Regions from separate parts of the Homo sapiens genome. Here regions 2, 3 and 4 are each linked to region 1. The links come from fine-mapping of genetic effects on gene expression. A gene starts in region 1. Each other region holds a variant in brackets. All regions are shown on one strand. Distances are from middle to middle.

Region 1 (4,413 bases):
CACTGCACACAGCACAGGGTGGCCTCATCGTCAGCTATAATTCTGAAATTACAGATTATGCTATCATTTTCTTTAAATGACTCAGTAAGACTCACACTCTGATTTGACGAATAGGTCCATATTTCCCAAATATATCATACATTTCTTCAGCTGTGATTTTGTATGGCAAATTTCTTATATACAATATCCGATTTACTTCAGGTGGAAGTCGAATCTAAAATGAGAAATACGTATTGTTATTATAATTAGGGGCATTCTAAAAAATTATAATTTAAATGCCCCTATAATTAGGGGCATTTTAAAAAATTCTTAATGATACGTAATAATAAAAAGCCAAGAATAAGAGGTATAATTTGATGTTTCTGAAAATGGGCAGATCTTTGAAAAAGCAACAGAGGCTGGGTGCAGTGGCTGGTCCCTATAATCCCAGCACTTTGGGAGGCAAAGTGGGAGGATCACTTGAGCCCAGGAGTTTGAGACCAGCCTGGACAACATAGTGAGACCCCCATCTCTACAAAAATTTTAAAAAATTAGCCAGGCATGGTGGTGGGTGTAGGCCTTTGCAAACCTTACCACCATCACTCCTGCTAACACCTGAGTTGGGCTGTACCCTCTTCCCTGCCCATCCCAGGAGATGACCCTGATTCTTGTTTCTTGGAGAAAATAGACATGACCAATTGAAATACTTTTCATCTATATCCAACTACTTTCCCTCTATTACTACGCCAACCTTCATCTACTCAAAACCTTCACTTCTAAACTCAACCTATCTTTCTTCCATATCATGTTTCGCACACTCTGCTGGATTGCTCCCATTGGCATAAAGATACACCTATATCACACATCTTTTAAAAAGTCAACTATCTGGCCGGGTGCGGTGGCTCATGCCTGTAATCCCAGCGTTTTGGGAGGCCAAGGCAGGTGGATCACTTGAGGTCAGGAGTTTGAGACCAGCCTGGCCAACACGGAGAAACCCTGTCTCTACTAAAAATACAAAAATTAGCCGGGCATGGTGGTGGGCACCTGTAATCCCAGCTACTCAAGAGGCTGAGGCAGGAGAATTGCTTGAACTCAGGAGACAGAGGTTGCAGTGAGCCAAGACTGTGCCACTGCACTCCAGCCTGGGTGACAGAGTGAGAGTCCATCTCAAAAAAAAAAGTCAACTATCATCCAATTTCCCTACTTCCTATTTAAATGAGAACTCATGGACAGAGTGTCTTTGCTGTTTCCATTTTCTCAACTTCCACCATCTTTTCACCCCACTGCAATCAAGTTTTCATCCACTGAAATGATTCCTATCATCAAGGTCACCAAAAGTCTCCATTTACATATACAATGGTCAATTGCTTGTCTTTTCTTTCTTTCTTTCTTTCTTTCTGTTTTTTTTTTTTTTTTTGAGTCAGGGTCTTGCTCTGTCTCCTGGGCTGAAGTGCTGCGCAGTGGCACAATCATGGCTCAAGGCAGCCTTGAATTCCTGGGCTCAAGCAATCCTCCCACCTCAGCCTCCAAAAGTGCGGGGATTACAGGCATGAGCCACCTCACTCGGCCTAACTTCATCTTACACCTCTAAGCGTTTTACTGTTGACTAATCTCTTTTTTGAGTTTTTTTTTTTTAAAAGTTTCCGTAACACTGTACTCTCAAACACTAGAATGTAAGCAGAAGGACTTGTTTTATTCACTGCTGTATTCCCAATACGTAAGACTAGTGTCTGGCACATAGTAGCTATTCAATAAATATAATTGATGAATTATGTCCCACATGGCAAGCAGAATACATAGTAGGTGCTCAAAAAATATTGTTTTAATTAATGTGTTAATGAAGGATCCGAAAAGCACCATGATCTGAGGGGAATCCCAGGTCCTAGTTGTTGGTGAACCATTAAGTTAGTTGAGGACTCTTCTGAGATATCGACTTTAAGTCAAGGAGATAATCCTAACGCCAGGTCCTTAGGTGCGGGTCAAGCAAAGAGGCTATAGGGGTAACACTATCACTGACACTAGGGTAGAGACTGAGGAACTCTCAAAAGGGGTGGGGACAGAAATGTGGCTCAAGGAGCATATCTCTGAGGATGGGGCCGGATAGTGTCTTCGCTGACAGGATAGGAATTCTGGAGTTCTCCGCTCTGGGGACGGAGGAGGAGCAAGAATGCTCCGATCCACGCCGCTAAGAAAGTCAAACCCGAAGTTCTCCCACCCTCCGCAGAACACCCGATACTCACGTTCGCCCTCTTGGCCGCTTGCATCGCCATCTTGGCGGGCTGATGAAGTTACCGTAGCAGATACTGAAATTCCTCCGGAGCTCGCTCGGCTTCGGGGGTTACACCGCGTTAGATGCAGGACATCAACATCCAGGACCCGCCGGAAGCTGTTACAGCGGAATAGCGCCGTCTTACGCTGAGACGCGCTGACGTAGCAGCCCCCTTCGAATAGACTCCGGGGTAAAACCGAGCCTGAGCGAGACTCGAGGCCGGAAGATGGAAAGGCGAGAGTCCAAGACACTTCCGGGCTCTGTACCGTAAAGGGCGGGGCGTAGCCTCCAAAAGGCGAGATGTTCCGGTCGGGGAGGCCCTGAGCAGAGGAACCCGGGTGGAGAGGGCGGGGCCTGAGGAGGGCGGAGAGCTGGGGCGGGTCTCAGGTGAGTAACTGGGGAGCGGAGGAGGCGGGGCTTGAGCAGGGTTATGACAGGTAGGGCGGGACCCAGGTGAGTAGCGGGAGGGGGCGGGGCCTGAGGAGGGTGCGGAGAGCTGGGGTGGGGCCCAAGTGAGTATCCGGGAGGGAGCCGGGCCTGAGCAAGGCGGTGAGCTGGGGCGGGACCCAAGTGAGTAATGGAAGGGGCGGGGCCTGAGGAGGGTGGTGGCGGTGGGGCGGGGCCCAGATGTGTAGCGGGAGGTGGTGGGGCCTGAGGAGGGTGGCGAGAGGTGGGGTGGGGCCCAGGTGAGTAGCGGGCGAAGGCGGGGCCTGAGGAGGACTGAGCTGGGGCGGGACCCAGGTGAGTAGCGGAAGGGATCGGGGCCTGAGGAGGGTGGTGGAGGTGCGGCGGGGCCCAGAAGTGTAGCAGGAGGTGGTTGGGGCTGAGGAAAGTGGTGGAGGTGGGGCGGGGCTCAGATGTGTAGCGGGAGGTGGTGGGGCCTGAGGAGGGCGGCGAGAGGTGGGGTGGGGCCCAGGTGAGTAGCGGGCAGGGCTGGGGCCTGCTGTGGTGCCCACTGGTTGCGGGGCGCGCGGGCAGGTGCCGGAGGTGGTGGGCCTGGGCCTCTAGCTGTGCGCAAGGCGGAATATGTGGGGTTCTGGCGGCTTGTGTCACGGCTGACGCTGTAACTATACCCAGAATCTCCGTCCCTGGAGGGGCCCTCAGGTTGAGCGTCAGCTGATCGGGCCTCAGTAATCCCCGCTGCGACGCCCGTCCGGACTCCCACCTCAACCCCGCCGCGGCGGCCCCAGTCCGCGTGCCACCCTTCCAGTTCACTCTTTATTTCCTCATATCAGCTTTAAACGGCTCTGGAGGAAGCACCGGGTTTCTTGGCCTGTCTATTGTGAATCTTCTCCAGGTTTGCTCTGGAAAGGCCTGGGGTGGCCGCGTCCTGTCCTGCCCCATCCTCCTTCACTGGGGCAGTTCCAGGACGATCTTGCCTATGTTCTTGTTGGCCTCCATGTACTTATGGGCCTCCTGGATTTCGGTCACTGGGTAGATTCTGTCCAGAACCGGCAGCAGACGTTGGGGGCCCTCCGTGGAGAAGTGAGGCAGAATTTGCTCCGTGAAAGCATTCACCAGCATTTGCTTGTACTAAGACAAGGGAAAGGAGATCATCAGCCTGGGGAGAGAGCCTCACCCTGCCCTCCTCATCCTCCTCAGCCTTCTTGCTCTCTCTGAAGCCACGTATCTGAAAAAGCACACAGGGACACTTAACCCCTCACTTCCTAGCATGTGTGTGAAATACCCTTGAAGGAGTCATGTGCCATCTCAGAATATGTCCGATAGGTATATTGTTAATTTTGAGGTGAAAGCATTGGAGAAATTGTAGTTTCAGAAAAGGCTAGCTGACCTGTCTCTTCTTGCATGTAGCAAGTCATAAAGATTCCTCTGAGAGGGGTACCCTCCCCATACTAGGGCAAAAAGCCCTTATCACCAGAGACTGGAAACGGGGCTGCAATGGAACTGAATAAATACACTTAAGGAAGTAACCCTTATCTTCCACTAGTTTTACACCCCCCACCCCCATATATCTCCTAGTGACTTCCCTAGAAATTTACTATCCCTAGCCAGATTTTGTCTTATTTCTTCTCAAATTTATTGTTCTTTGTCTAAAAATTACAAAAGCATCTTACTTTGGCCGAATCACTTGAGCCTGGGAGTTTGAGATCAGCCTGGGCAACATGGTGAAAACCTGTCTCTATAAAAAATACAAGCCAGGCATG
Region 2 (4,469 bases), 35 kb before region 1:
TCCACTGTGAAGCCGCAAATCAGTTAGGACAACTTGATTCCCATCGGTCCAGGCAAGGCCATGGATCGGATGCACTGCTTGATGCAACGCATTCAGTCCAGTCCTGAGTAGTTTTCCTTTTCCCAACTCCATCCTTTTGATAAAGGTTACCTGAAATGATTAAGAAGGAAAGTTACACCATGAGAAATCTAGACAAATCTAGAATGTAGGACATTTGGTAAGACAACGGCTTAGCCCCTTCCCAGGTTAATAATGTGGAGAGACAAAAGGACAGGGGGAGTATTATAAATTAAGAGACTACTGAGCTATCAGGCAAATGCAATGTATATACTTTGGATCTTGAAGAAATAAAATCTTCTACCTAATGAAGATTTTTAGAACTGGGGAAATCTGAGTATGGAATGGATATCAGAAAATATTGTAGAGTTATTATTTTTCTTCTTTTTTTTTTTGAGACGGAGTCTCACTCTTGTTGCTCAGGCTGAAGTGCAATGGCACAATCTCGGCGCACTTCAACCTCTGCCTCCTGGGTTCAAGCGATTCTTCTGCCTCAGCCTCCAGAGTAGCTGGGATTACAGGTGCCTGCCACCAGGCCCAGCTAATTTTTTTTTTATTTTTAGTAGAGACGGGGTTTCACTATGTTGGCCAGGCTGGTCTCAAACTCCTGACCTCAGGCAATCCACCCACCTCAGCCTCCCAAAGTGCTGGGATTATAGGCATGAGCTCCCGCGCCCGGCCAGAGTTATTAATTTTCTTAAGTGTGAACATGGTATTGTGGTTATGCAGGACAAGGTCCTTATTATTTAAATAAGCATGTTGAAGCACTTGGGGTAAAATGTCATGATGCCTACAATGTGCTTTCAAATGGTTTGACAAAAAAAACCCAAATTTTCTATAGACACACAGAAAGAAAACAAATGTAGCAAAATGTTAATAATTGTAGAGTCTAGATTGAGGCTATGTTAGTATTTATGGTACTTTCAACTTTTAAGTTAGAAAATTTTCCAATTAAAAATTTAAGAAAAGTCTCCTCCATCATCTAATTTCTATTCGTCCTTTCACTGCCAAATCAATGAATAACTGATATGCACATCTCTGACTTTATTAGCACTTATTTCAAATCCTTCCAAAGTGGCTTTTATCCCTCTATTGAAATGACACTCAAAAATCACTGTTTCTATTTCTACTTCTACTTCATCTTATTCAACAGCACTTAATAATTTTCAGAACATTTTCACATTCCCTATTGCATTTTATCTTACAATAATCTTTTAAAATAATGTAAAGTAGGTTAGGCAAGTATTATCTTCATTTTTTCACCCTGAATATTTTTCCCCCAGGCATTTGAATCACTAAAGAAGCATATGCTTAGGGCTGGGCGTGGTGACTCACGCCTATAATCCCAGTACTTTGGGAGGCTGAGACGGGAGGATCACCTGAGGTTGGGAGTTCGATCCCAGCCTGACCAACATGCAGAAACCCCATCTCTACTAAAAATACAAAATTAGCCAAGTGTGGTGGTGCATGCCTATACTCCCAGCTACTTAGAAGGCTGAGGCAGGAGAATCGTTTGAACTGGGGAGGCAGAGGCTACAGTGAGCTGAGATCGTGCCATTGCACTCCAGCCTGGGTAACAACAGCGAAACTCCACCTCAAAAAAGAAACAACAACAACAAAAAACAAGTACATGCTTAGGCTGGGCACGGTGGCTCATGCTTGTAATCCCAGCACTTTGGGAGGCTGAGGCGGGTGGATCACCTGAGGTCAGGAGTTTGAGACCAGCCTGGCCAACATGGTGTAACCCTGTTTCTAATAATAATACAAAAATTAGCCGGGCATGGTGGCGCATGCCTGTAATCCCAGCTACTCAGGAGGCTGAGGCAGGAGAATCACTTGAACCCAGGAGGTAGAGATTACAGTGAGCCAAAATTGCACCATTGCACTTCAGCCTGGGCGACAGGAGCAAAACTCTATCTCCAAAAAAAAAAAAAAACTGTTCCCTCCTACTCAGTGCCAGCCCCTTTAGCTCCTCCTCCTTTCCAACATTTCAAAGCCTTGATAAAAGCATCATTAACAATTTGGTGTTTAGCCTCTGAAAATGTTAAAGAAAGACACAAAGATATATAGGATTTTACATGTTATGGCTTTTCTTTTAAACAAAAAATGGGGTAGCCAGGCATGGTGGCTCATAGGCATGAGCCACCCAGCACTTACACCCATTACACCCAAAGTGTAATCCCAGCACTTTGGGAGGCCCAGGCAGGCAGATTACCTGAGGTCAGGAGTTCGAGACCAGCCTGGCCAACATGGTGAAACCCCATCTCTACTCAAAATACAAAAATTAGCTGGGCTCGGTGGCAGGTGCCTGTAATCCCAGCTACTCGGGAGGCTGAGGCTGGACAATTGCTTGAACCTGGGAGGGGAGGCGGAGGTTGCAGTGAGCTCAGATGGCGCCACTGCACTCCAGCCTGGGCAACAAAAGTGAAACTCTGTCTCAAAAAAAAAAAAAAAAAAAAAAAGATACATATAGTCAGTAGGGAGAATAAGGACATTATTTGGATAAGCTGTAATACCTGAATACTCACTTTGAAATATAAACATAAAAAATACTATTTAATGTAAAATGAAAAACTGCCTCAGGAAAATTATATTTTGAAATACTATCAATCAGTGGATACATAAATATATAATAATGGATATAAGAATAAAATGTTGCAATAATAAACACAGACTGAGAAAGACTAATTTTAGTATAAAG[C/G]CTGGGTGTGGCAGCTCACGCCTGTAATCCCAGCACTTTGGGAGCCCGAGAAGGGCAGATCACGTGAGGTCAGGAGCTCAAAACCAGCCTGACCAACGTGGAGAAACCCCATCTCTACTAAAAATACAAAAAATTGGCCGGGCGCAGTGGCTCACGCCTGTAATCCCAGCACTTTGGGAGGCCGAGGCAGGCGGATCACGAGGTCAGGAGATCGAGACCATCCTGGCTAACACGGTGAAACCCTGTCTCTACTAAAAATACAAAAATTAGCCAGGTGTGTTGGCGGGCGCCTGTAGTCCCAGCTACTCGGAAGGCTGAGGCAGGAGAATGGCGTGAACCCTGGAGGCAGAGGTTGCAGTGAATCGAGATCGCACCACTGCACTCCAGCCTGGGTGACAGAGCAATACTCCGTCTCAAAAAAAAAAAAAAAAAAAAAAAATTAGCTGGCTGTGGTGGCGCATGCCTGTAATCCCAGCTACTCAGGAGGCTGAGGCAGGAGAATCGCTTGAACCCGGGAGGTGGAGGTTGCAGTGAGCCGAGATCGTGCCATGGCACTCCAGCCTGGGCAACAAGAGTGAAACTCTGTCTCAAAAAAAAAAAAATTTAGTATAAAAACAATTACTGGGCCAGAGCCAGGCGCGGCGGCTCACGCCTGTAATCCTAGCATTTTGGGAGGCCGAGGCGGGCAGATCACCTGACCATCAGGAGTTCGAGACCAGCCTGACCAACATGGAGAAACCCCGTCTCTACTAAAAATACAAAATTAGCTGGGCGTGGTGGCACATGCCTGTAATTCCAGCTACTCAGGAGGCTGAGGCAGGAGAATCACTTGAACCCAGGAGGCGGAGGTTGCAGTGAGCTGAGATCATGCCATTACACTCCAGCCTGGGCAAAAAGAGTGAAACTCCGTCTCAAAAAAAAAAAAAAAAATTACTGGGCCAGGTGGCTCATGCCTTTAATCCGAGCACTTTGGCAGGCCAAGGCGGGTGGATCACCTGAGGTCAGGATTTCGAGATCAGCCTGGCCAACATGGCGAAACCTCGTCTCTACTAAAAATACAAAAAAATTAGCCAGGAGTGATGGCACACTCCTGTAATCCCAGCTACTTGGGAGGCTGAGACACGAGAATTGCTTGAACCTGGGAGGCAGATGTTACGGTAAGCCAAGATGGCACCACTGCACTGTAGCCTGGACAACAGAGTGAGACTCGGTCTCAAAAACAAAACTAAACAAAATGACTGTTGGCCAGGCACAGTGGCTCATGCCTGTAATCCCAACAATTTAGGAGGCCAAGGCAGAAGGATCACTTGAGCCCTGGAGTTCGAGACCAGAGATCAGCCTGGACAACACAGCAAGATACTGTCTCTACTTAAAACAAAACAAAACAAAACAAAAAACCCCCCAACAATCTACAAACATATATAAAGTGATGTTTAACCTTATTAGTTATCAAATAGTTGTGTAAACTGGCAGTACTCATATTTTTCACCACTCACTCTCTTCTTAATATACTTAAAATGAATTCCATTCCAATTTCTTCTCCAAAACATCTCTCACCAGGCCACCAGTGCTTCCCTGTCACTGAATCTAAATGACATTTTTCAGCCTTGTTTTACTGAGTAAGTGTCAAAGGCAGAACTTGAGAAGTTGTCTTCAGACTCTAAATCCAATGAAATGTATTCTCTACCAACCTGGTGATTTGCTTATCTGT
Region 3 (4,469 bases), 530 kb before region 1:
AACTCAAGGGGCTTCCTTCCATGCTCATCAGAAGCCTCTGCCTGTCTTATGGTCTCAGATCTTCTTGAGGATTGGTTCAGCCCTGCCAGACCATGGGCTCCTTGAGGGCAGTCCTCAGCCAAATCCATCTCTGCCAGCACTCACAGCCCCAGCACAGTGCTGAGTGCCTGGCCAGGGCTGGCTGGTGGGCTGAAAGTGAGCGGCAGCTCTGTGCATCTCTTTGTTGTAGCTGGAAGGTAAGACAGGAGCTAACCAGCAATGCAGGGTGATCTCATCTGGGTGTCAGAGGCAGCAACCCTTCCCAGATTGCTGGTCTCGGACACAGTGCATTCACCGTTCTTTCTCAAGTCCCTCGCAATCGAAAACAGGATTTTTTAAAGAGCTTTTAAAAAAGCCCAACCCAAAAAACAAAAAAAAAAAAACCATAAAACTGGTGCTCCCAGTGGACAGCAGCAGGGCTGGTGCCTTCTTGTGTGAGATGATTTGTGGATTGAGGCCCCAAGTCCAGATCCTGGGAAACAGTAGGTGTGTCTTCCATCCAGAAGCTCTTGTTTCTGGCAATGGCCGTAGTGGTGCAGCTGCTCAAACTGTCTAGAAAACTGAAGAATTAATCCTGGGAAGTAATTAGCTCTCCTGGGAGGGGTTGGGCTGTGTGCTGCCTGTTGTTAAGTCATTGTCGTCATACTGATGGCCTTGGGAAATGGCATTAAGAAGTCTAAAGGGCTGAGTCAGGCAACCAGGGTGGTGGCAGTGTTTTGTTTTCTTTTAATTTCCAACCCTTTGATCTCTTGTCTAAAATAGCCTCTCAGAATTTAGCAATTATATTTCTTCCCTGGTTAATACTGTTCCCTTCCTCTCTTCAATTGCATCTTTTTCGGTACATGTATTTGTTAAGGAACAAAAATGAGTTAGGCATTTAGAGGACTTACTTTAGTCCCAGTAGACCCACCTGCCTGGAAAATTGGATGCCTAGGGAGGCTTGTGCAGATGAGAGGGCTCCATCTGCACAGGGGTTCACCAGTTGGCTATAACCAGGTCTGCTGGGGAAGCTCTCCCACCTTGGTGTCTCTGGTTCTCTCCCTCTATCTCTTGTTCTGTTTCCATGGGGCATGTGTGCTCTGATGGGGACAGCCCGCGTTCAGGGTTTGGCTATTTGGGGAATTGCTGAGTCTCCTACTTTCTGGAGTTGACCTTTTCTGCAAAGCACATGCCATCCTCGGGGCTTGTCAGGCATTTGGAAGGGGACAGTCTCCAGGGAGCCAGCATCCAGCCACTGTCCTTCCTGCATTCTCTCCCCAGGGTGGAGGCCAGAGAGAGATCGTTCTTGCAGAGGAGGGGCAGGCTTCTGCCTGAACCCTCAGAGAGCCTCACCTGGACCAACTACAAGTTGCTCAGCCCCGGGGAGTTGAACCTGGAAGATGATCTCATAGCAGCCACCTGGGCCTTTCACCAGGGACACCTGGGGAAGGAACCAGGTCTAGTTACCACTCAGGCAGCTCCTGCTGCATTGGATCCAGGCTCTTTGTGACCTTGGGCAAGTCACTCCCAACTGTCTGAGCTTCTGCTTCCTCCCCTGGGAAATTAAGATTGCATTAGTCGGGGCAGGCTAACTATTGGAACAAACCACCCCAAACTGTAGTGGCTTAATCATGTAGCTTCCTTCTCAAGTCACGGTGTGGGATGGGTCAGTGAGAAGCAGCTCTGCTCCAGGAGCCCGAGAAGAACCAAGCCTCCTTGTGCAGTGTGTCCCTGCCGTCTGCGCCTCATCCTCCTCTGCAGTGGACAGGGAAAGAGAGATGAAGAAGACATCTCTGCTCTAACCACATGGTCTAGAGGGACCCGAGTCACTCGCACACACATTCTGCACATGTCGGCAAGAACTCATTACACGGCTCCAGCTAGAATCAAAGGGGAGCTGGAGAGTGTTGTCCAGCTGTGGTCCCCAAGAAAGAGGAGGGCACAGACATGGGCAGCGCCGGCGACCTCTGCCACAGAGATGGTGATGAAAAGTCCCTCCCCGGGATGTGCGGGAGGGTTAAATGTAAAATGTCATCATTCTTCAAGCACAGTGCCTGACCCCCAGTAGGTAGGGGGATATTGTTATTTTTCTTGTTTCTTCTCCCGGATATTCCCTTGAGGTTTATGCAAATAGCAGACCAAGGCAAGAAATGAAATCTATGTCCCTGCCCTCTGAAGTTACTGATTTCCGTGTTTCCTTGCAGTGTAACGTTTCATTAGACCTTCCAGATGGGGGAAAGAACAAGCAGATTAGAAGTCAGATAGTGCCTAGGAGCCTGCTCCATCGGTTTCTGGGACGGCTGGAGCTTCAAAGCTATTTGGTATTTCCACTGCCGAAAGGCCTCCTCGGGAGCAGTTGTGTTTTAATAAATGGCTGCCTGAGTAATTTTCCTCGGAGGAATTGCGTCGTGGATGTGTACGCTCCTGGGGGAGAGCTGGCTGCTCCCTCCACCACTCCAGATGCTGGTGCATTATGAATAGGATGCTTGGGGCTGGGGGAACTGGCAAGCCTGCCCACCCC[G/A]GGCTGGTGATGTCATCTCCCAGGTCCACCAGGTGGACTCTCCAGGGCTCTGGGTCGGGGCTTGCTGGACAGGGAGAGTAGGAGACATTTGTGCAACTGGCCTGAACTGCCCCTTCCCCATGGCCGCTGGCAAAAGCAACCGCTTTAAGACCCAGGGGAATAATTCATTTCTTTGACATAACCTGACTGATGCTGCCCCCATCAGATAGGGGCAGTCTGGTGGGTGGGGCAGGGAAGGAGGGAAGAACAGGCCTGAGTCCAGGATCTTGCCCGTCTGTGGGGAGAGAAGACGGGCACGAGAACCACGGTGATGTGGGATTGCAGCGTGCTTCATTCACTCGTTATTTACGGAGCCCTACCAGAGGCCGGGTATTGCCTGGGCCAAGATACAGCATTGAACCGAGCTGGCAGGTGGAGACTGTGGTGCCTGAGAGCAGGTCTCCGGGGCTGCGCTGCCTGGGCGTGAATCCTCCTCTGCCACTTTCTAGCTGGGAGACTTTGGGCCAATTGCTTGAGCTTTCTGTGCCTCAGTTTCCTAATCTGGAAGATGGAGATAGCCATCGGAACAGCTGCCTCACAGAATTGTTATGTAGATTAAATGAGTCTGTGTTTAGAAGCACTGCCCTTAGGGAACTCACACTCCAGAGAGGGGACACACAGAAATCTAAGTAAGTAAACTATATAGGCCAAGAGAAGGCAATGAGAGTGAGCGGGAAAGAAAGCAGAGAAAGAAGTTGCCATTTTACAATAGGATGGGCAGAGAAGGCCTCACTGAGAAGGCAACATTTGAGAAGAGGCTGGAAGGCAATAAGAACGCTGGCCGTGTGGATAGTGGGGAGGATGGGCCCGGCACAGGGAGCAGTGTGTGCAAAGGTCCTGAGGTAGAATGGGGCCTAAAGTGATGGAGCCGCTGCAAGGAGGCCAGCATGTTGGAACAGAGGGGCAGGGGGAGACCAAACAAGAGAGGGGAGTGAGCACCAGGGCCTCATGGGTCTTAAGAAGAAGGCCTTTGGCTTTTTCTTAGGGTAGGATGGGAGCCATTGCAGGGACTTGGGAGAGATGATCTGGCTTGTGTTTTAACAGGATCACTCTGGCTGCTGGGTGGAGAATACTCTGAATGAGGGTGAGGAAGGAAGGAAGGAGACGTGTTTAGGAGGCTGTGGCAGAAATCCAGCTGAGAGATGACAGAGGCCCAGGCCAGGGTGGACGTGGGAAGAAGTGGTTGGTGTTAGGAGGAAACACAGCTGCCAGCCGAGGAGGCTGAATGTATAAGAAGCATTTGTGAGTGAGAGACGAAAGGTCTGCAGGCCAGGGCTGGTCATGAGTCCAGGAAAAGATAGAGAAAGAAGAGCACTGGCTTCAGAGTCGGGCACAAGAGCCTCCTTCCAAGCACCACCACTTCCCCCAAGTGGCCTTGAGCAAGCCACCGCATCACTGAGCCTCAGTTTCCCCTTCTATAAAGTGGAGGCAGTGCTATGACACACGCAGTTTAAGTGACTTGCAGAGTAGCAGGCATGCTGTCGGTGCTCCGTAAATGCTCCCTGCTTCCCCTTTCTGCTGCCTGTTTGCAGCTGGGTAAGGAAGGCTTGGCGTCCTCGGGGTGGGGTGTCCCCAGGCCAGGAGGCTGACACCCGCAGAGCTCAGGGGTGTGGAGAGAGATGCAGGCACCACCTCGTGGTAAGCGAAAGGGGGTGCTGGCATCTCCATCTCTGATTTCATAGTGAAATTTGCCAGGCACTTCCTCTAGGCAGGAGGCCCTGGAGTATGGGGTGATTAGGCCCCGGCTACACTGCTCCTGGGGACGAGTCATTTCCTTTGTAGCCAGGGAGTGGGTGCCAGCCCAGTCCTCTTCTCGGGCGTGAAAAATACTGAGTTCCTTTTATTCTAGCCCCTGAAGGCCATCCTGATGGTGCCAGGTTGGCATCTGACA
Region 4 (4,469 bases), 480 kb before region 1:
GTGGCCAGGCGTGTCGCCTACGTGCTTGTTGTCCACAAGCTTTTCCTTCAGGGCCCCTCCCTCCCTGATTACACAGAGCCCGGGCCTGGGAGAAGGGTCTGATCATTTCCCTGCCATGTCTTCTCTGTGAGCCCTTGTGCCTCAGTTTCCCTGCCTATCAAACAGGAATAACCATCTCTTCCTCGTCCACTTCACAAGGTAGTTATGAGACTGAAATGAAAGGCTGGGTGTGGCAGCCCTTGGAGGAGGGGATTTAATGACAGGGGTGTCGAGGAGTTGATTATACAGCAGAGGTGGGAAGGTTCTGTTTTCTCTGCCTGGCGCGTTGCCTTGTTTACCAGACCGGCCTTATTTGGGAGTGCTCCGGGGAGTCGCTGGCTTCATGGAACATGCAGCGATTTCATGGTAAAGCCGGGCACTCAGAGGTGGAGGTGTCACCATCTGGAACCAATTCGCGTTTTCCTGAAGTCTGAGGCGCCCGCAGACTTCCTGCCCGGCTCCTCCGGGCTCTGGAATGGCTCCCACCTGGACCCAAGACCAGGGACATTTCGTTCCTCCTGGATTGTTCTAATCCCAGACACTCAGGAGCTCACCCCCGGCCAACACCAGTGCCCTTCTTCGCTGACTTCTTTTCACCGTGTTTCTGTAAACACATTAAAAATGGCCTTCCTGCATTTCAATTCTCCATCTCTCCTGCCGTTTTCTCTGTCCCCTGATTTCAGCCTCCAGGATTGAAATTCTTTCTCCTGGTCTCCATGAGGAATTGGTGAAACAGAAAAAGCAGGAAATTAATGTCCCAGCCTCCAGGCTCCACAAAGCATTAGATGGAATTAAAGTAGAATAATGAGTCAATGCACACACAACTCTGTTGTTCTTTGACTTTTCCTTTCAAAATTCATGTAGTGAATGCTGCTCCCATTCTACATCATCTTGGGCTGGGAGACACACTAGTGTCCTGAATGAATTTACATACCAAATGGGTTTTAATTTTATATTTTTGCTTAAGGTCAGGACATTTATTTATTATCATTATTTATTACTGAAGCACGAGTGGTTTTAATTATTTTAGTGTTCCTCCTACAAAGCAGGATAGCTGCTAGCTACAGACCATTTTCCGTTTCCGCTCACATAAATAATATAGTTTTTAATTTCATGAAGATTTAGTATTCGTGTGCTTTGTAAATTAAAGTCATCGTTTACCACAACAGAGACGGAGTGTTTGGAATATCCTGGTGGACTTCTCTGTCCATTTCTGGAGGATCACTTTTCCTAACTTTGGTTCTCTGTTGCAGGCGCCCAGAAAGAGGCACCCGCAGAGGGCCTGGGAAGGGAAGGGGCTGTGGGGTGTGGGAAGTGGCTGTGGGGTGTGGAAAGGAGAGGGGAAGGAACCCTTCTTTCCTGCAACGTCATTTGCCTTTCCATGTATTATAATCCTATCCCGTTTCTCCCACAAAACCCTACCAAAGCCAGCATTTTTGTCTCTGTTTTACAGAGAAGGGAACTGAGGTCCCAGCATGTTAACTAACTTGCCCAAGATCACTCAAACCCAAGTGACAGGTTCAAATGCTGATATTCCTGACCCAAGGCATAGCCCTTTGTTCTCCTACCTGCCCTCTCTGTGCCAAGGCTTGGGAAGGTGGGCAGATGTCTCTGCACAGGCCTGGGGCTGGACACTGGCAGAGGTACAGTCAGCAGTAGAAGGATGAGAGATGGACGCAGAGAAGGAGTGGGCAGGAAGGGTGGCAGGCAGCGGGCACTGCCAGGCTGTGGTGTGACTGTGTGGGTGCAAGTAGAGGGGAG[C/A]AGTGTCCTGGTCACTTGGGGGGCAGAGGACGTGACCTCCTAGGAGGCAGTGTCCCCAACACACAGCCAGGGGACTCCATCTGGACACCCTGGAGCCACCAAATCTTGCAGACTGCCCTCTGCAGGTCCTCCTCCATCCCTTCCCATGCTGTCTCTCCACCAGGATCCCAGCTCTCCCAGGGTGGCTGCTAGGCCAGTGAATTGTGAGCTCCCCACGCAAGCAGCATGCCCCTTCCAGACACCATGACTCCCTGTCTGTAAATCACTCTCCTGCATCCCCATCCCATCCCCAGCTAGTCCTGGGCGGGCTTCTTCCTCAGAAGCATTCCAGAAGGTTTTCACACTCCCCGTGGTTTGTCAGGAGGACACCGTTTTGTGGCATTGGGTCCACATTTGCTGCCAGCATAGCCTCTGGAATGCACGGCCTGCTTGGGGTTGCCATGGAGAAGCTGGGTCTGTTGGTGGTTTGAACTGAGCCGCATACAATAGAGCACCCTCGGCAGCCAGCCGGACGGGCAGGCCGGGGGCGGGGCAGGGCAACAGCCTTGTACCCTGCTGCCATCTGCTTTGACCCTGCCAGGCAGCTGCAGCCCTATCCCTTAGGGTTGTTGGCAGATTAAAAATGTAGTGGATTTAAATCATGCCCACCTCATTTTGCAAGGGTTTTCTTGAGTTCTCCTCCAGGCTTCAGCTACCAACACGCCCCTATGAGTCTCTGTCTCCGAGCAGAGGTCTTGGTGTCCTGGTGGCTGCATCCCAGGGGAGAGGAAGGAACCCGTTTCATAAGCGCACTCACGTTGGAGCAGAACAGAGTCACTAGGAGGCTCGCTGTGATTTATCAGGGGCCATGCCACACTGTCCTTGCACACAACGTGGCTTAAGTCTAAACAGAAAATAGACCTCACGCTGAGTCATCCTTCTCCATAATGGAAGATGAGATTGTGCTGGCGGGAACACATCATGTCTGGGGACGTATGCTGCCATCGTGGGAATGTGCCTCTTTAGCACGCCTTTAACCCCTATCCTGCAAGCATCTCCCTCTAAATGAGGGCGATAGGAAGACTCCGATGCTGGGGCAGAGCCATCTCTTACACACAACGGCGAAATTATTTTCTTCATCTCAGAAACAGGTTCCCCCAGGAGGACATAAATAAATAAGGGATTCCTGGTACATACTTTACCCATTTTTCAGATTTTCCTCCTTCTTACTCATGGCACTCATGTAAGTGCTACTTCTGGAGTGGTCCCAGCCAGATAGGTGCCTGGGGATACAGGAAAGCTCAGGGCTGCGTTTAGAATCAAATAGAGCTAATGGTGAAGTCTCTTCCCACTGAAAAGAGAAGCAAAATACTTTTCAGAGCTGGATCGCTTGCTGCTTTATATAGAGGGCTCTGCTTTTGGGGGACAAGCTCTCTCTGAAACCCAGGCCCACATATTTTATAAGTGTTCAGGGAAGACTGTCTTTTAAAAAGGTACAATTAGGCAGGCATTTGCTTATCATTTTTCCAATATAATAGGTAGAGAGATTGAGGTCACATCTCTGGGAAGAGTCTGATGAGGGCATTGTTTCCTCTGGGCCAGGTTGCAAACTTGCTACGTGTCTGTTCACCCATCTCGCTCTCAATCTATCTCTCTCTCTCTCATATATATATATATGTGTGTGTGTGTGTGTGTGTGTGTGTGTGTGTGTGTATGTATATGTGTATGTATATATATATGTGTGTGTGTGTATATATATATATATATATATATATTTTTTTTTTTTTTTTTTTTTTTTTTTTTTTTCTGAGACAGAGTCTCGCTCTGTCACCCAGGCTGGAGTGCAGTGGCACAATCTTGGCTCACTGCAACCTCTGCCTCCCAGGTTCAAGTGATTCTCCTGCCTCAGCCTCACAAGTAGCTGGGATTATAGGCATTGTGCCACCATGCTTAGCTAACTTTTGTATCTTTAGTAGAGACGGGGTTTCACCGTGTCGGCCAGACTGGTTTTGAACTCCTGGCCTCAAGTGATCTGCCCGCCTTGGCCTCCCAAAGTGCTGGGATTACAGGCATGAGCCACCGTGCCCGGCCCTGTTCACCCGTCTCTAAAATGAGGCTCTGTAAGGTTCCTTCTAGCCCTGACATGCTCTCAGTCTAGGGAAGGAGATGGGGAGCTCTTGTAGGTTCTTCTGCAGAGAAGATGCATCTTCCTGGTCCCCATCCCCGACCTGTGGTCTTTCCGCAACCCTGCCCGTTCATGGCCTCTGGGCTGGTCCCCCTCACTCCTCCATCTCAGTGGGAGAGATGCACAGGATGCCTCTGGAGCTGGTGCCAGGAGTAAGGCCCCCTTCCCATCCAGGGAACACTTGGTTCTGCAGGGCTTGGAGGCATCCGAAAGTCAGTGAGAGATGAGGCTGGGCCGCTCTGAAGTTCAAGGGTTTGGAAACGGTGTCCTGGGTACAAATAATAACCAGCCTGAGTACCTAAGAGGTTGGTAATAAGAGGCACAGTAATAATGCCTGGCATTTATTAAATCTTTACTACCTGCCAGGCATGAGTAAGTGCCTTGCACATATTTTGCATCAAATCCTGTAGGGCAGGTATTATTATCCCCATTTTAAGATAAAAAAAAACCGAGGGTTAGGGAAGTTCATTTACCAAGATCATTTGCAAAGTAACTGATCTTGCAA

Alleles and levels. Alleles are on the strand shown, and positions count from the first base shown. SD is a standard deviation of normalised expression in the study named. Not every link is listed here.
In carriers of allele A in region 3, the expression in monocytes of the gene that starts at base 2,346 in region 1 tends to be lower than with G alone (moderate effect, 0.51 SD a copy in Fairfax 2014).
In carriers of allele A in region 4, the expression in monocytes after interferon gamma of the gene that starts at base 2,346 in region 1 tends to be lower than with C alone (moderate effect, 0.64 SD a copy in Fairfax 2014).

The links. PIP is the estimated chance that this variant, and not a neighbour inherited with it, causes the effect. A credible set is the group of variants that fine-mapping cannot tell apart.
Region 2: its variant is the best candidate, but not a certain one, in a credible set for the expression of SF3B6 in whole blood (INTERVAL, PIP 0.81).
Region 3: its variant is the best candidate, but not a certain one, in a credible set for the expression of SF3B6 in monocytes (Fairfax 2014, PIP 0.50).
Region 4: its variant is the best candidate, but not a certain one, in a credible set for the expression of SF3B6 in monocytes after interferon gamma (Fairfax 2014, PIP 0.69).

Annotation. Positions count from the first base shown.
Region 1 is chr2:24,073,981-24,078,393 of GRCh38, forward strand. SF3B6 (splicing factor 3b subunit 6) reads right to left here and starts at 2,346. Exons shown (of 4, transcript NM_016047.4): 1 at 2,220-2,346; 2 at 96-214. The coding sequence starts at 2,249. TP53I3 (tumor protein p53 inducible protein 3) reads right to left here. Exons shown (of 5, transcript NM_004881.5): 5 at 3,453-3,781. The coding sequence ends at 3,599. It also overlaps a transcript of FAM228B not described here. RefSeq lists enhancers at 1,632-2,164, 2,165-2,696, 2,231-2,460 and a silencer at 2,571-3,220.
Region 2 is chr2:24,039,363-24,043,831 of GRCh38, forward strand. WDCP (WD repeat and coiled coil containing) reads right to left here. Exons shown (of 4, transcript NM_025203.3): 2 at 1-150. The coding sequence starts at 132. It also overlaps a transcript of FKBP1B not described here. Among named protein-coding and RNA genes, the nearest start is that of WDCP, 5.8 kb to the right of the region's middle. The variant C/G (reference allele first, on the strand shown) is at 2,759.
Region 3 is chr2:23,541,364-23,545,832 of GRCh38, forward strand. The region is part of intron 2 of KLHL29 (kelch like family member 29); the gene reads left to right. Among named protein-coding and RNA genes, the nearest start is that of LINC02923, 160 kb to the left of the region's middle. RefSeq lists an enhancer at 3,902-4,403. The variant G/A (reference allele first, on the strand shown) is at 2,540.
Region 4 is chr2:23,593,855-23,598,323 of GRCh38, forward strand. The region is part of intron 3 of KLHL29 (kelch like family member 29); the gene reads left to right. Among named protein-coding and RNA genes, the nearest start is that of LINC02923, 210 kb to the left of the region's middle. The variant C/A (reference allele first, on the strand shown) is at 1,801.